Linked DNA regions of Homo sapiens: region 1 is linked to region 2. The links come from fine-mapping of genetic effects on gene expression. Tissue or cell type: whole blood. Region 2 holds a variant in brackets; the other region holds the start of a gene. All regions are shown on one strand. Distances are between the middles of the regions.

What was found. PIP is the estimated chance that this variant, and not a neighbour inherited with it, causes the effect.
Region 1: CD2BP2 starts here. The variant in region 2 is fine-mapped to the expression of CD2BP2 in whole blood (INTERVAL, PIP above 0.99).

What each region holds. Positions count from the first base shown.
Region 1 is chr16:30,351,156-30,359,255 of GRCh38, forward strand. It overlaps CD2BP2 (CD2 cytoplasmic tail binding protein 2), which reads right to left and starts at 4,153. Exons shown (of 7, transcript NM_006110.3): 1 at 4,057-4,153; 2 at 3,449-3,552; 3 at 3,029-3,167; 4 at 2,746-2,903; 5 at 2,213-2,645; 6 at 2,026-2,132; 7 at 1-1,940. The coding sequence starts at 3,526. The coding sequence ends at 1,830. TBC1D10B (TBC1 domain family member 10B) reads right to left here. Exons shown (of 9, transcript NM_015527.4): 7 at 8,017-8,100; 8 at 7,508-7,662; 9 at 5,947-7,418. The coding sequence ends at 6,789. It overlaps CD2BP2-DT (CD2BP2 divergent transcript), which reads left to right and starts at 4,279. Exons shown (of 2, transcript NR_184233.1): 1 at 4,279-4,465; 2 at 5,138-8,100. RefSeq lists enhancers at 3,167-4,118, 3,203-4,402, 4,093-4,387, 4,119-5,070, 4,125-4,184 and 1 more.
Region 2 is chr16:30,329,643-30,337,742 of GRCh38, forward strand. It overlaps the pseudogene SMG1P5 and the pseudogene LOC100421031. Among named protein-coding and RNA genes, the nearest start is that of CD2BP2, 22 kb to the right of the region's middle. RefSeq lists a silencer at 5,140-5,959 and an enhancer at 6,190-6,289. The variant G/A (reference allele first, on the strand shown) is at 3,476.

The DNA.
Region 1 (8,100 bases), 22 kb after region 2:
CTGGACATCTCTGGGGGCTGTTATTCCACCCACCGTCATCAGTGAGGCGCCTTCAGGAGGGGCTGTGAGGTCACGTGAGGTCGGCTTCAGAAGGGCTAGGTTTGAGTGCCTGGAGGACACTGGCAGGAGGCGCCCCTGGGCTCCATCCATTTACCACGCACGCACTCAGCACCCCTGAGACCATCCCTGGGGCCTACAGGAGAACCCTGTACCTCAGCAGCCCTGAAACCTGCTTTCCACTTCCGGACCTTTCTGAAATCAAGACGCATCTTTAGATCAATGGCATCTTACTGTGTCACCGGCAGGCCTCTTCTTTCTTAGTGACGTTTAAAGGAAGGTATCTTACCCCTGATGGCTTCTTGGAGTGAATGAAATTCCGGTGTGAGCAGGCACTAGAAGGGGCCTCACAAGAGTGTCAGGTGACCCCACTCCGCCCTGGCCCCCAAGTCTTTCCTAGTTGCTCATCTGGCCCTTTCTGACCTGGGATCCCAAGTGTCCTGCAGCTCCAGTGCCCAGACCCCCATAACTAACAGACCCCACTAAAGCCACACACATGCTCAGCTCTCCAACCACGGTGGGGTCCAGGAGCCACCCCTCCCGCTAGGTGTGCCTAAACCATGGGGATCTGACTCAGGGGCTCTCTCTCGGCCTGGCTGCAAGCTGAAAACACCTGGGGGCTTCCAAAATGCCCAATGCCTGGGCCACAACCTAGACCAGCTCAATCTGAATCTCCAAAGAGATATTACAGCTCCCCAGGAGACTCCAAGGGGCAGCCAGAGTGCAAAACCGGAAGAAACCATCTAACGTGGGGCAAGGGAGGCGTAAGGCAATGCTGGTGGGGCGTGGAGGTGGAGGGTGCCAGGCCCAGGCTATAGAATTACATCTGTCTATTTCCCATGCCCCTGCCACCAGACTCTGAATTCCTGGAAGGGGACCAACCCAGCTACCTCAGTTTCCTCAAGGCACTAGCCCTGTGCCAGGCACATAGTGGGGTCCAGAGAATGTAGGCCGCAGGGCCTCCAAGGCCAGGCAGCAAAGGCTTTGTGCCAAGAAAGGTCTGGGAAAGGAGCCCACTGGGTCTGGGCCAGCCCTTTGATTCCTGTGATCTCCAGTGAGTCACTGCCCCTCTCTGTGCCAGTACAATGCACACTTGGCCCACACTTGGCCACTGAGTTTGCACTTCACTGAAGGGCTGTGGGAACGACGGCAAGGATAGAGGAAAGCCAGATTAGGGAAGACACTGGCTCTCAGAACCTTAGGGATCTCGGTCTTGGGCCACTCATCCCACTTCTGCCCAGCATCTAAGGAGCTTGAGAGGGTGAAGCGAGAGTAAGAGGGTTCCATGCTCACCCCCAACAGGGTCCCAATGTCTTCTCGATGCCCTGGTCCTTCTGGGCCTAAAACATCCACTTCTGGGGCTCTGTCCTCTGGTGGCTACAAGGATAAAGAATCTGAGGTCCTGAAAGCCAAAGACCTAAGAGGAATCGAACAAGAAACCTGGGAGAGGAGCACAGAGCAGCGCAGTTGGGGGTGTTTACACGGCAAGCAGAGTCCAGGCAGGGAGGCCACAGGATACCTGACAGGCACCTCCAAGAAGGATCTTCATGGGAGTACTCAGGGACCAAGACAAGTCCAAAGGGACTGTGGAGAAGGCCCCTGGCTTCTGGCCATCAGCACAGCCAAGGCCCCAGTACACAACTAAAGGCTTTTATTGGGAAAGGGAAATTGACTGAAAAATGGCCTCCAATTTCCTCGCTGCCTGAGACACTTGGTGCCTCCTCCACAAAGTCCAGGAAAGAAGGGCCCACCAAACTGGGCCCCCAGCAGGCTCAGGTGTAGAGGTCAAAGTCAATGCGTTTGGAGTTGTAGAACTGACCACCAGGGGGGTCCAGCTTCCGGCAATAAACACCGTCCGGGAAGTAGCCTTCACTCACCCAGGTCTGCAAGGAGAGGGCAGAGCTGGGGAACAACTGACAGGAGTGGGGGAAGCAGGGACAAGGCAGGAGGAGGGAGAAAGCAGCTCACCTGCATCTGGGCGCTGGTGAAGGGCCCATACAGCTCGGCATCCCCCGTGTTCTCCCACTTATATTCCCACATCACATCCACCAGACCATCTCCCCGCGACTCTGCTTCTAAAATAACAGGCAAAGCCATTTGGCCTCCAGTGTCTCACTTCCTACCCACTGCCCCCTCCTCTGTCCTCCAAGCTCACCTCCTCTCTGGGTAGGGGTTGGGGTCTCCAGTTCCTCCTCCGCCAACTCCTCAGCGAACATGTCCAGGGAGGGTGGGGGTGTGGGATTGTGGGGTCCTAGGGTCTGACACCCCAAACCCTTCAGACGCATAGCCAACCGTTCCCTTGTTTCCTGGTACACACCAAGGTTGCCCCGGGCCACCATCTGGTCGGCCAACCCGGAGAGCCGGTCCAGGCGCTGAGGGGAACTGGGTTGCCCAGGCCCCTTTCTCCCTTTGCCTCCTCCTCGGGCCCCCAGACGCCTCAGTGCCCCAGCCACTGTCTCTCTAGGCAATAGGAGCTCCAAAAGTCCCTCCAAGAGGGCTTGGGCACTCATTGAGGTCTGGCCCAAGCTGTCCTCCTCCTCCGAGTCTGAGGCCTGGCGCTGGCCAGGTGGCCGCTCCCGGATCTTCACCTGTAATGGGAAGATGGAGTGATTTCCCACCAACTGCCACGGGAGCAGGCCCAGCATCTGCCACTCCCAGGCCCCAGCCACGCCAGCCCCTGGGCCGCACCCAGTCAATGTTGTCCAGCCAGCTGTCTCGGATCTGAGCATCCCGGTTCAGGAAGTAGTTGCCATCGGCATCAAAGTGGCCTTCCTCCATCTCCTCCTGCAGGTTAAAGGGTGTGATCCGAACACCCCCCTCGCTGGGGAGTGTGGCTGCCTCCTGACCTGCACCAAAGACACAGGTGCCCTTTTCCAGGCATGGAAAAAAGAGACCGGAGCCTCCCTCGCTCCACACCACCAGAGGCCCCTACTTGTTTTTCCAGCAGAGTGTATTCTTGGGTACAGCTTACCTTCTACATCCTCTGAGGCCAAGATGTCATATTTGCTGGACCCCCCATCATCATCATCCTCCTCCTCATCGCTATCCAAAGAGTGTTTGCCTTTAAAGCGGCTCCCAGGACCCCCTGACCCAGCCACAGGGTCCACCAGCTGTGAGCAGGAGCCAGAAAGTTGAGAAATGCAGGTTACTGGCTACCTCCCCAAATACTTCCGGATCTGGACCCAAATATTCCCCAAATATTTCAGGATCTCGACTACTTCCCCAAATATTTCAGGAGCCACACTAAAGACGCTCCCAACCCATTCCTCAGAGAACCTGAAAAAACTAGGCTTTTCTCTGCCTGCCCGCCCCGCCCCTCTCCCGCCAGCTTTCTTCCTCTTCAGGCTTCTAGCTCCTCTTTCCCCCACACAAAGCAGTCTGGCCCCCTCACCTTCTTCTTGGGGACAATGATTTCATCCTCATCCTCCTCATCTCCCACGCCTTGGAAGGTCACTTTCCTCTTTGGCATGACGGGGCAAAGAGGTGTTTCTCAAGCTGAGGAAAGGATGCAGAGGAAGGGAACCGGGTGAGGAGGGGACTCGCCAACAGACGCAGCACAGCAAACATTTTTCCTGGTCTGTGACAGGTACAGTTTGGGAGCGGAGGGAGCACAAAAGCAGGGGCCGAAAGGAAGCTGGCAGCCAGGAGGCCTCCAGGACTTGGGTCTAGCATCCGCGAGTTAAACGGGGCGGGGACGGAGGAGCGGACCCTCTGGATCCCCCGACCCTGGCTGAAAGGAGACAGGCTTCACCACGTGACCGCCCCCAACTCCAGCCCCCGCAGTCTGCGCGCCACCGGCTCCACGGGCTGACCCCCGCTCTCTACCCTGGCTCTCTCGGAGCTCGCCGGGCCCCGGCAGACCCAGGACCTGGCGCTCTCGCCACCCCGTTCCTCCCTGCTCCGAACTCCCAATTCCGTGTGGTGAGCCCCAACTGTCCCGGGCTGTGTACAACTTAGAGGGCCACGGGGATTCGGGCGGTCCCACCCTCGCGCACTCACCTGGGAATCCGCGGAAGGCGAGGTGGAAAAAAGAAGAGATGCTTGCGCCAGGGCTACATCCGGGGCACCCGGCCGCCATCACCCGGAAGAGGACTGCGGAAGGCGCCCGGGAAGCCCGGAAGTGGCTTCACTCGGGTTAGGGAACTAACTGGAAGAGCGGGCGGAAGTATGCGATAAGCGAGCGAAGACGCCTCCACCCTCTCTCCCGCCAGAAGTGACGTCAGTCACGTGGGAGGACAATGGTGAGAAGAGGGAACCTAAGAATTCCTGGACTCTGACTGGGCGTGAGAAATGGCCGGAAGTAGCTTCGAGTCCGTCATTCAAGCAGTAGAGGCTCTGGAGAAAAACTGGAGCGCATCTGCTTAAAGGGCCGCCCAGGGTCAGGATGGAGGGGCAAAGTCCGAGCAGGGTCAGTGGGTTGCTGCTCCGTTTTCCTGTCCTGGGTTCAAGTCACCCTTCCCCCAGGGCTAAGGGCTCAGCGCCCCTACCGTCTCGTTAGAAATCCTGCCTTCCCATTCCTATGGTCCAGTGGTCAGCCCTCCTAGCCTGAGAGGTGCAGCCTTGCCTCTCCGAGGGGAAGCCTGACTCTCCCGATGGCCAGCCTGGGGCCCCTGGACGGCTCTCCGGGCACTTTCTGAACACACCTCCCTTTAGGACCCAGGGGAAATAATTTGTCCCACGCCCATACCCTGGGCGAGTTCCTGGTTTCTGAGGTGGGAGAGCCATCACTGGAGAGGTGGCATTGGCGCCAGTACTCAGGCCAGAAGCCCCTTGTGCCCTGCTCTCAGGTAGGCCTGGAAAAGGGCAACAGTGCCTCTCTGCAGCATGAAGCCCCCCTGAGCAAACAGGGCCTAGCAACTCCTGCCCAGGTAGCGGAATGTGGCCCAAGCAGAAGGGGGAATTGGGGAGGTAGCGGGGATCAGCCCCTGTGCTGGGACCCCTAGCTCTTGACACTCGGAGCCTGCATCCCCCTAAGCCAAGACTGTGCGCAGGCAGCACGTGCTGAAGCCAGACGAGGACAGCATGAGAGTTCCCCTACTCTTCCCCCAGGCAACTAGATGGGCCACTTCTCTCTCCCTAGGGGTTTCCTCCCATATTGGATCACGATGAAAACTGCACAGAAAGTCCGTGCTCAGTTTCTTCCATGGTTACAGAACACAGGCCCCAGACCAGGAAGGCATTCTGCTAAAGAAGGGGACCCGAAACCTCAGCTACCAGCGCCGATGGTTCATCCTCCGAGGAAACCTCCTCTTCTACCTAGAACACTAGACCGACCATGCACCCCTGAGCCTCATCCTGTTAGAGAACTGCCAGGTGGAACCACACCTTAAGGCTGCAGAACCCTATGCCTTTACCATCCTGACCCCTGGGGTGGAGGGCACAGGTGGGCGGGCCTACAAGCTGGCTGCAGAAACCCAGGAAGAGCTGGAGACTTGGCTGTGGGCACTGGCTGGCGCGAGCTGGAGGCGGCTGGCTGGGCTGCTGTCCCCCCTCCCCCCCCACCAAAACCCAATACTGGGAGCTGTGCCAGGCAACTGGCCAAGAACCCATCTCATCCCCAGAGGACAGTGGCTTTCTAGCCACTGTGAGTACCCCCTCCAGCTTCCAGGAGTTGCATGAGCACTTTGGGAAGGAGATCCGGGTGCTGCACGTGGTACATAGAGAGCTCCAGGCAGCCAGTGACAATGGAGACAGCAGATCCCAGGCAAAGATGGAGCAGGAGCTCAACCAGTGTCTGATGAGTGACTGAGAGATGGACCCAAAGCTAAGAGGTACCTACTTGCCAAGACAGCAGACTGCTTCAACAGAGACCCAGGTCCTGGCTCTGTCCCTCCCTCCCTCGTCCTTACCCCATCCCCCCCTCATCAAATAACAAGGCAGAAAACAGGCCCAGGTACAACAGCAGGTTCTTTTCCAATTCCTCAAAGCGCTGCATGGGGTGGGGGCAGAGACAGAAGAGAATGTAAACATTGGGTTCCACCCCCTGGAGCTCAAGGGAAGACCCTTACCCAGATAGGGACTAACTGGAGGGGTGGAAGGGAACAAGGTGAAAGGTATGGGTCCTGGTGAGACAAAAGCAGGGGGGCCTGAGAACACAGAGCAAGGTGGGTTTGGAGGGAGCACAGCAGGGTGCAGGAAGGGAGATGGGGGACATTTCCTATTCCAGTGCATGTCCCCTTAAATAAACTGGGTACAGGAGCATTATGGAAGGAGAACCAAAGGACAGAAGACAAAGCGAGCACCCCCACCCCAGGCCAACGCCATCCTCTGTACACAATTACAACACAGGTCCAGAATGAGAGCCCTGGCCAGGAAGTGGGGGAGACAGGGAGGGCTGAAGACAGGGAAAAGGAAGCCAGCTCCACCTCATGGTAAGGGGAGCTATGGAGTGTAAGAATCTGAAACTGCTGACTCCCATCACCAGGAGTCACCCCTGGGATGACAACGGGCCATTCAGGACAGCACCTAGGAGGGGACCCAGAGGGAACTGGGGCAGGAGCGACAGAGACCCCAGCTGAGCCTCATGGGAGATGAGAGGCTCCAGACTCATTTGCAGCTGCCCATCTGTCCTGCCCGTGTAGGGATCAGCAGCTGGCGAGGAGATGGGGAACCAAGCCACTTTCCCCAGCAAGGGACAGCCTGACAAGGTGCTAGGGGGTGGCACCTTGGGCCAGGCCTGTTCTTGGCTGAGGGAAAGAGGGGGGCCATGCAGTCCAGCCCCAGGGCAGAGGTCAGAAGTAAGCGTCCTGCCGGGCCTCGGCTGAGGGCCTGTCCCCACCATCATGGGGGCCTGGGGGCCCATCTGCCTTTCGACGCAGCGAAAGCTTCCGGCCTTGAGCCTTCTTCTCCTGCTTCTGCCGCTCCTTCTCCTGCTTCTCTCGCTCCTTTTCCTGCTTCTCTCGCTCTTTCTCCTGCTTCTGCCGCTCCTTCTCCCGCTCCTTCTCCTGTTTCTGCCGCTCCTTCTCCTGTTTCTGCCGCTCCTTCTCCTGCTTCCGGGTCTCCTTGCTGGAACCCAAGGGGGTGCTATTGCCAGTGGGTGAGGGAAGGGATGGATGCAGTCCCTCAGCAGTGACCACAGGCCCTGGGGCAGGCCCAGCACTGGCTCTGCGGACGGGGGGCGGCGGGGACGGGGCCCCTCCAGCTGCCCGGGAGCCTCGGCTCTTGAGGCCAGGGAGGCTGAGGAGGCTGGAGGAGGGGCCCAGGGGTGGCTGTTGCCGCCGGCGCTCCTCGTGGATGGCCCGGGACCCATGCAGTCGCCGTGAGGGCCGATACTGCAGCTCCCCCCGCGTTTCCCGCCACTTCTTGAGCTGGGCTGCATTCTCCCGCTCAATCAGTGCTTCTGTCACCGGCAGATTGGTCACCTGCACAGAGAGGAAATGCGTACCAGAATGGAGCTGAGGGTGGGAGCGGGCTGAGGCAGGCAGGGGCTGCGTTGAGGGCACAGGCCTACCTCATGCACCAGGAAGTCTTCCTGCATGCACTGCTGGGGCAGGTTACGCAGCTGCTCCATGGTCTCATACATGCCTTGGCAGGAGCGCAGCTTCTCCACTGAGCCCAGCGTGTGGCGCAGCAGGACCAGGGCCACCCGGAAGATGATCTTAACGCCTGCAGGGGTGGAGAGTAGAGAGCATGGGGTGGTCAGACCCAAGATCTCAGCCTGTCCTGATCAGGATAGACTCACAGCCCCCATCCCCATCTACTGCCAATCTCAGATGAGGAAACTGAGGCCCTGTGAAAGTACATGAGCTGCTATCAGTCTCAGGATCTTGGCAGGGAGAGCAGGCTCTGGGTTGGTGGCAGAACTAAAATCAGGCCTGTTTCTCCAGCCCCCAGCTGCTTATGGTGAAACCTCCACCCAACAAGTACCTTTTGTCCATGGACCACCAGAAATATGACAGAACCCCTGGTAGCCACCACAGAAACCCCAGCCCCTCATGGCCTGGAGGGCCACAGAAGTACCTTCACAGAAAAACATGTCCCAGACACGCAGCACCGACGCCCAGGGCAGGGTGCGGGCGAAGATGCACATGAACCACTCCGTCA
Region 2 (8,100 bases):
CACTTGAGCCTAGGTATTCAAGACCAGCCCAGGCAGCATGGCAAAACCCCGTCTCTACAGAAAACAAAAAAAAGTAGCTGGGGGTGGTGACATGCACCTGTGGTCCCAGCTATTGGGAGGGTGAGGTAGGAGGACTTATTGAGCCTGGGAGGTGGAGGCTGCAGTGAGCTGAGATGGTTCCACTGCACTCCAACCTGGGCAATGAAGTGAGACTCTGTTTCAGAAAAAGAGAGAGGCGGCCAGGCGTGGTGGCTCACGCCTGGAATCCCAGCACTTTGGGAGGCCGAAGCGGGTGGATCACCTGAGGTCAGCAGTTCAAGACCAGCCTGGCCAACATGGTGAAATCCTATCTCCACTAAAAACACAAAAATTAGCCGGGCATAGTGGCATGCACCTGTATTCCCAGCTACTTGGGAGGCTGAGACAGGAGAATCACTTGAACCAGGAGGTGGAGGTTGCAAGTGAGCTGAGATTGTGCCACTATACTCCAGCCTGGGCGACAAAGTAAAACTCTGTCTCAAAAAAAAAAAGAGAGAGAGAGAGAGGAAAAATAAATAAATTAGTCAGGTGTGGTGGTATGCACCTGTGGTCCCAGCTACTCAGGAGGCTAAGGCGGGAGGATTCCCAGAGCCCAGGAAGTCAAGGCTGCAGTGAGCAGTGACTGCACCACTGCACTCCAGCCTGGGCAACAGAGCAAGAGCATATCTCAAAAAAGAGGAAAGAAAAGAAAAGAAAAACATAAAAACAAACGTTCCTTTAGTTTTAATTTTTATTTTTTAGTTTATTATGGCTGTTTTACTCTCCTCCAAGTAAAACTGCCATACACAATTTGCTGAAATTTTCCTTAGTGTACTTTGAAATCTGTGGAACAGAACTGGCAATCGCTAAATTCTATTTGACTCTAGTTCCATTTAAAATTAGACTGGTGTGAAGTAACTGCGGTTTTTGCCAAAACTGCAATTACTTTTGCACCCACCTAATACGTATAAAATATGTAACTTCACTTAATTTTATCCTTTATGTATTTCCCTATATTATGTACCTATGGACATCAAACTTACTACAGACTGATAAAAGGCTGAATAGACAACTCTGGTTTCAAAAATCCAGCTTCTCACAACATCAGACATACTAGTATACAGCTTTTCTAATTTCACAACATATTTCCATTTTTTGGTCTTTCACAATAGAGAAGATGTGTATACTTTTGAATACTCTGCTCTGTCTACAATCTACCAAAATTGGAAGGTGTTTTTATTATACAGTTTCATCCTTTTAGAAATACAGAAAGATCCTAAGTTTGGGCACAGTAAGACACTCAATACAGATCTACTACTAAACAAGTAAGACCAATTACACAATTAATGTCCTAATACCCCGAGTGGAAAAGTAAAATCTACTTGTTTTCTGTTGACTTGAATGCCTTCTCTTTTGTTGAATTAATCAATCTATTTGACTCCAATGTCAAATTAATCAATGTCACTTTAGAATATTAAAATGTACAATTATGAATTACACATTTAATTTTAAAACACATCATTCTGATCTCTGTCTTGATTGATACTAGAAGATTATCTTCCAAACTAAGGTGGAAAAAATGACAGACTTTAGCTATTGGCAATGATAGGTCATTTTTTTAGGGAAGAGGAGTAAAGAGGGCAACCTCCATAGGTCAGATATCCCTTTGTTCTAAGAAGCCACCACCCCTGTTTCTTCATATGAAAAAACCCAGAGGCATCCAGTGGTTCCCAAAACCTTCTCAACTTTATGCCTGAGGAACCCACAGATTTCAAATAATACAACTGACCTAAGACCACTCATTTGTTTAACCATTCTTTTTTTAATTTTTTATTTTTATTTTTTTGAGAAGGAGTCTTGCTCTGTTGCCCAGGCTGGAGTGCAGTGGTGTGATGTCGCTCACTACAACCTCCGCCTCTCAGGTTCAAGTGATTCTCCTGCCTCAGCCTCCCGAGTAACTGGGATTACAGGCATGCACCACCACATCCCGCTAATTTATTTATTTATTTTTTTTAGTAGAGACGGGGTTTCACCATGTCGGTTGGCCAGGCTGGTCTTGAACTCGTGACCTCAGGTGATCCACCCACCTCAGCCTCCCAAAGTGCTGGGATTACAGGCGTGAGCCACTGCCCCCGGCCTATTAACCATTCTTAAATGTCGGGTGCGGTGGCTCACACCTGTAATCTCAACACTTTGGGAGGCTGAAGGTGGGCAGATTGCTTGAGTTCAGGGGTTCAAGACCAGCCTGGGCAACGTGGTGAAAACCCCATCTCTACAAAAAATACAAAAATGAGCCAGGCTGTTGGCAAGCGCCTGTAGCCCCAGCTACTTGTGGATGCTGAGGCAGGAGGCTTGAGCCTGGGAGGTCGAGACTGCAGTAAGCCAAGTATCTGTGCCGCTGCACTCCAGCCTGGGTGACACAGCAAGACCCTGTCTCAAAAAAATTGACAGAAGAGTTGACTGAGAGCACAGTGAATGAAAAGGAAGACTATAAGCCAGTGCCATATAAATGCTTACTGTTGGAGGTATGCTTCTATGGAACACGGGTTTGCTCTCTTGCCATATGACATTCACGTATTCAGCCACCTGGAACACTTCTTGTCAGTATGTGTGAAGTATCATGTGTGGTCAAAATTGACTCAACAGTCATTTTCCACACCAACTGGCAAACTAACACTAAAAGAAATCAACAAGTATTGCTTTTTCAAAAGCCTAAATCGGCTGAGTGCGGTGACTTACACCTGTAATCCCAGCACTTTGGGAGGCCAAAGCAGGCGGATCACCTGAGTCAGGAGTCCAAGAACAGGCCGGCCAACATGGTGGAATCCCGTCTCTACTAAAAATACAAAAATTAGCTGGACGCCTGTAATCCCAGCTACTCAGGAGGCTGAGGCAGGAGAATTTTTCCCTGTAACCAGGAGGCAGAGGCTGCAGTGAGTCGAGATTACACCACTGCACTCCAGCCTGGGAGACAGAGCAAGACTCCATCTCAGGAAGACAAAAAAAAAAAAAGCCTACATCAAGGAAAACAGAACCAAAACACCAGGGACAAAATGGTACATAAGAGGCAAAAAAATTTTCACCAAAATTATTCAGATGAACCATAATAAATGTGCCTGCATCTGAAGATGTTCTAAACCTTCATTTAAGTAAGAAGCAAGATCAAGATCCATTCCGTCAGTTACCTGGAGTCTGTCATCTTTCGGAATAGGGGACGGAATCACCTCAAATTTAACTAATAAAAATTTATGACTTGGCAAACACCCCAGGTATTTTTATTGACTAACAAATCAGCTATGACAATCTTAGCAACAAATCAAGTTATGCTATGGGGTATGTCCACACTTCCCTGTTCCCTCTACAACAGGAGAAAATCAAATCTTTCCAACATCCTAACAAACTGTTACTCCCTGTAACCAAATGTATCACAGTATCGTCTACCAAGGCGTTACATCCT[G/A]AAACTTTCCTACAAAAAGCACAGCTTCAAAGAAACCTTGCAAGCTTTCTTGTAAGCTCCTCCCTTCCCACATCGCCCCTCCCCAGAGCCGAGAAATAAAGCACTTGAAAGAAACAACATGGATAATATTTATTAATAGCTCATGTACATATTCCATAACTACATAAGCCATTTGGCTTCATACCTGTCAGCAATGAAGTCAGCTGGCCCTAGCACGTGGCTGCGACTCTTCTCTATTTATTTAGAACTATAAACTACAATTTACACTTTACAAAAGCTGTAGGACTATTTGGGAAGGCACTTTATTCTTCTAAAAGGTTACTAAATTCTCTTATATACTTATACTGATCACAATACTGAAAAATAATAGAAAATCCATTGTCATTCATTTACCACCTGATTTGTTAGATGCCAGATAATCAAATTTCACACATTTCAATAAAAAGGCAAAACTAAGCATGTCAATCATAGGAAGAAAAATACTTAACTAATTTTATTTAAAGCACTCACAAACTCTTAAGTGGTACAAGACAAGCCAACGCTGTTTATCGAACAATATTTTTTTTTACGACTAAACATCTCAATTCTAGACTCAGGCACTAATTATTAAAGTCATCTAGTTATATACACCAATTCTCAACAGACACAGTTTTTTTTGGAAAGGCATATTAAACAGACTAAGATGTGTACTACCCATTAGCCAAAGATAATTTTATTGATTTTTCTAATGAGTCTTCAAATGTTACATTCTAACATCTTAGCAAATTATTTCCAAATACTGCTGGAATTACATGTAACTATCAGGAAACAAAAGGGCTTCTCAACAACTTGTGCGTTCTACATTATCTGGCCAGTTTCCGGACAATTATAATACAATTGTGCTCCAAAGCAGGAGAGTTCCATGAATCAATTGCCCCTAAAATATATTTCTGTATATTTAAGGAGTTCTAAGCATTGGGTTAAATTCCAAACAGACTCTGAATACAAGCATTTATTTAGTAAGAGAGGTTAGAATAAATCAATCCTAAATTAGGCACAGCTACCCTCCCCCCATTGATCAAAAAGATAGGAAATTACATTTATTTAAAAAGTTAATGTTCCTAATATATTCAAATCTAACTAAGCCCCAAAACGGTCTGAGATCAAATCCTCCATAAAAGAGGAAATTCTCTAGACTTCTAAGTGGGTGCCCAAAGAGTTCACTCAAGTGTCCAGGTATGAATTACGATTCACCAGAGTAACCGGCCTTGCACTTAGGGAAAACTTCCATCGCCCAAGACCAGAGTGGGTCGATCCCATCAACAGTCACACAATCTCATCTCATGCTCCACTAATGAATGTTCTGCCTAAAGTCAGAGCAATGCCTTGGCTGGAGTTTTGTTTTGGTTTTTTCAATATTAACATGTGGGGGTCACAGAAAGGAACAGAGGCTACAAGAGCTCTCACGTGGCGGCTGAAAGACTGGGGAACCGAGAAAGTGAATGAGTAACAGGGAGGGTCCTGGACTCTCAGGATCTCCCAACTCGGGGTCAGGGGGAGGCGGTAAGTGGAATGCCCCCCCCACCACCCCCGCCTCTTTCTCACCTCCTGGTCCCGACCCTAGGTCAGTGCCACCGCCGGGAGCCCCGGGGCTCGGCTTCAGCCCCGGGCTGAACAAGCAGGGAGGGGAGAGGCACTTAGGCCTCGCCTCCCCGCGGCCTTCCTCCCCTAGCCGGGGAGGAGGAGACCCAGGAAGCCGCGCCCGGCTCCGGTGGGTGGAGGGCCTAGGCCGCGCCTCCCAGCCCCGCGGCCCTAGGCCTCGGCCCGCCCGAGGCGGAGCCCGGGAGGTCGGGGCGGGGTCCCGGGCCGGTCACCCACCTGGGTTGCCAGTCATTCCAGCTCCGCGAATAGTTGGTGCCGCCGCTGCTCAGCCGAGACCCCGGGGCTCTGCGGCTCATTACCTTCCCCGACACGACATGGCCAAGCGCCGCCGCCCGAACCGGCCGCCGCCGACACCCCGCTCCGGCCCGGGGCTGAGGAGGAAGCCGAGAAGGAGGAGGAGGAGGCGGCGGCGGAGGGCGGGGGAAGAGGACGGCCGTTCCGGGTTCCGCCTGAGCCCGCAGGGCAGGACGAGGGAGCGGCGCGGTGAGAGAGGCGGATGAAGGCGAGGCGACGTCTCTTCCAGGGCCGTGCGCGGCCCACGACGCTGGGGCCCCGGAGGACGAGGAGGACGAGGAGCAGGCGGTGGCGGCAGCTCCTCACGCTCACACGGCCACTGCTTCCCCGCCTCCCGGCTCCGCCCGCCGCGCCGCCGCTGTCGTACGGCAAGCTGGGAGCGAGAGGCGGGGTCGGCCCCGCCGGGCCTGGGGAGAGAGGCGGGTCCTGTCGGCGGGGCGGGGCCGATAGCAGGCAGCCCCGCCCCCCACGGCCCCAGGCTCTTGGACGGCGAAGCTGGGCATGGTGGTGGGCAACTGTAATCCCAGCTACTCAGGAGGCTGAGGCAGGAGAATTGCTTGAACCTGGGAGGCAGAGGTTGCAGTGAGCTGAGATCACGCCATTGCACTCTAGCCCAGGCAACAGAAGTGAAACTCTGCCTAAAAAAAAAAGAAAAGAAAAGAAAGAAAGAAAGGTGGCCCCGTTAATGTTTATGCCAAGACAGCCGGCATGACCTGGAAGTGTCCCAAGCCACAGGGCATCTTGTTTCCGGGGAGGATGAATGAATCAAATCGCACCTATTTTGAGGCAAGCAAGGACTCTGTGACTTCAGGAGCCCTGGTGGGTGGACAGAAGCTCCCTGCTCCCCCAGCCTGTCTACCCAGCAGCGCTTTGGCCAGTCCCATTCCTGTACTTCTGAGCCTGCCTGTCAGTCCCTCCTCACACGCACACCGTGGCTTTGTGCCTGGTACTGAGTGTCCCGGAGCCCCAAACCACAGGGTCAACCCCATGAAAGAAACCGGGACTCTGCTCTCATCCACTCGCCCCCACCCCCCGCGTAATCCCCTGGTGCTCACACAGCCCCACCGTAAAGTTTTTGTAGCTCCCTGGCAGACTTGTGCTCCTGTTTGCCAGATCAAAGCCCAGTGACCTGAGCGGCCTGTCCCCAGCAGAGGCCACTAGTCCCTGTGGACCCACCCCATTGGGAAAGGCATGGGTTGAACTTTAACCATTAGGCTCAGGGATTGGGATGAGTTTCTACAAAAAGAGGTGGGTACACGCCAGTCCACAGTGGTCCTGATCAAAGTGAGAACAGACAGCAGGGAACATCACCCTCTTCAGATTGGAGTCAGTGGGAACAGACCTAAGATGTTGGGGAAGAACACTTGGAAGACCTCAGCTTTCTCCTGGGTTGAGCAGATGTGGGCCCCTCTCTGGAGTCGTTCGATGAGGCCAGGGTGATGGTGTTCTCAGCGTTCCTGTGCGCGGCGAACCAGCAGTAACACTTGTAAGTAGAGCCTCAAATTTCCCAAATGCAACTGGATCCTTGTCTTAGCTGATGGGGTCTTTCAAGATGAGAGAGTAGAGACCATCCCGAGCCACACGGGTTCAGATTTCCACTCTGTTTCTATTTTTTTTTTTTTTTTAAGATGGAGTCTCGCTCTATGGCCCAGGCTGGAGTACAGTGGCGCGATCTCAGCGGCTCACCACAACCTCCACCTCCCGGGTTCAAGCGATTCTCCTGCCTCAGCTTCCTGACTAGCTGGGACTACAGACGCATGCCACCACTCCTGGCTAATTTTTTGTATTTTTAGTAGAGACAGGGTTTCACCACGTTAGCCAGGCTGGTCTCGAACTCCTGACCTCGCGATCCGCCCGTCTCAGCCTCCCAAAGTGCTGGGATTACAGGCGTCAGCCACCACGCCCGGCCCTCTTTTTTTCTTTTTTTGATGAAGTTTTGCTCTTTTGCCCAGGCTATAGTGCAATGGCATGATCTCGGCTCACTGCAACATCTGCCCCCCAGGTTCAAGTGAATCTCCTGCCTCAGCCTCCAAAGTAACTGGGACTACAGGCACCCACCACCGCACCCGGCTAATTTTTTGTATTTTGGTAGAGATGGGGTTTCACCATGTTGGCCAGGCTGGTCTCGAACTCCTGACCTCAGGTGATCCACACACCTCAGCCTCCCAAAGTGCTAGGATTACAGGCATGAGCCACCGTGCCTGGCCACACTCCTTTTCTCTTGTATTTGGTGACCTTGGGTGAATCGTTTAGCCTCCGTTTCAGGGGTCCTGGGGAGGGCAAGATGCCGGGAGCAGGCGGGTAGTCCGTGTTCGCACAGGACACACTGGCATGACTCACCATCCAGACCCGGCGGAATGGCTTGCACTAACCAGTCACGATCGCTCCTAAACTCTTCGGCAAAGAACGCTTCCAAGCAAACCTGTAGCAAATAAACCACTCAGCCAACTCTGCCAAGAAACTGCCCCATGCCAGCCCCTCCTGGCTTCACGGTCAGTGCCTTGTGACCTTGGACGAGGCCCTTCCTCTTTCTGGGTCTCAGGTGCTTCCTCCGTAGAATGAGAGGCTGCTTTGGCAGCTGCCAAGTTCTCTTCTAACTCAAATCTTCCACGCGTTCCATGTTTGGGCCATTGAAAGAGCATGGGCTTAGGAGCCAGACCCCAGGCATGCGGTGCTACTGACGCTTGCTG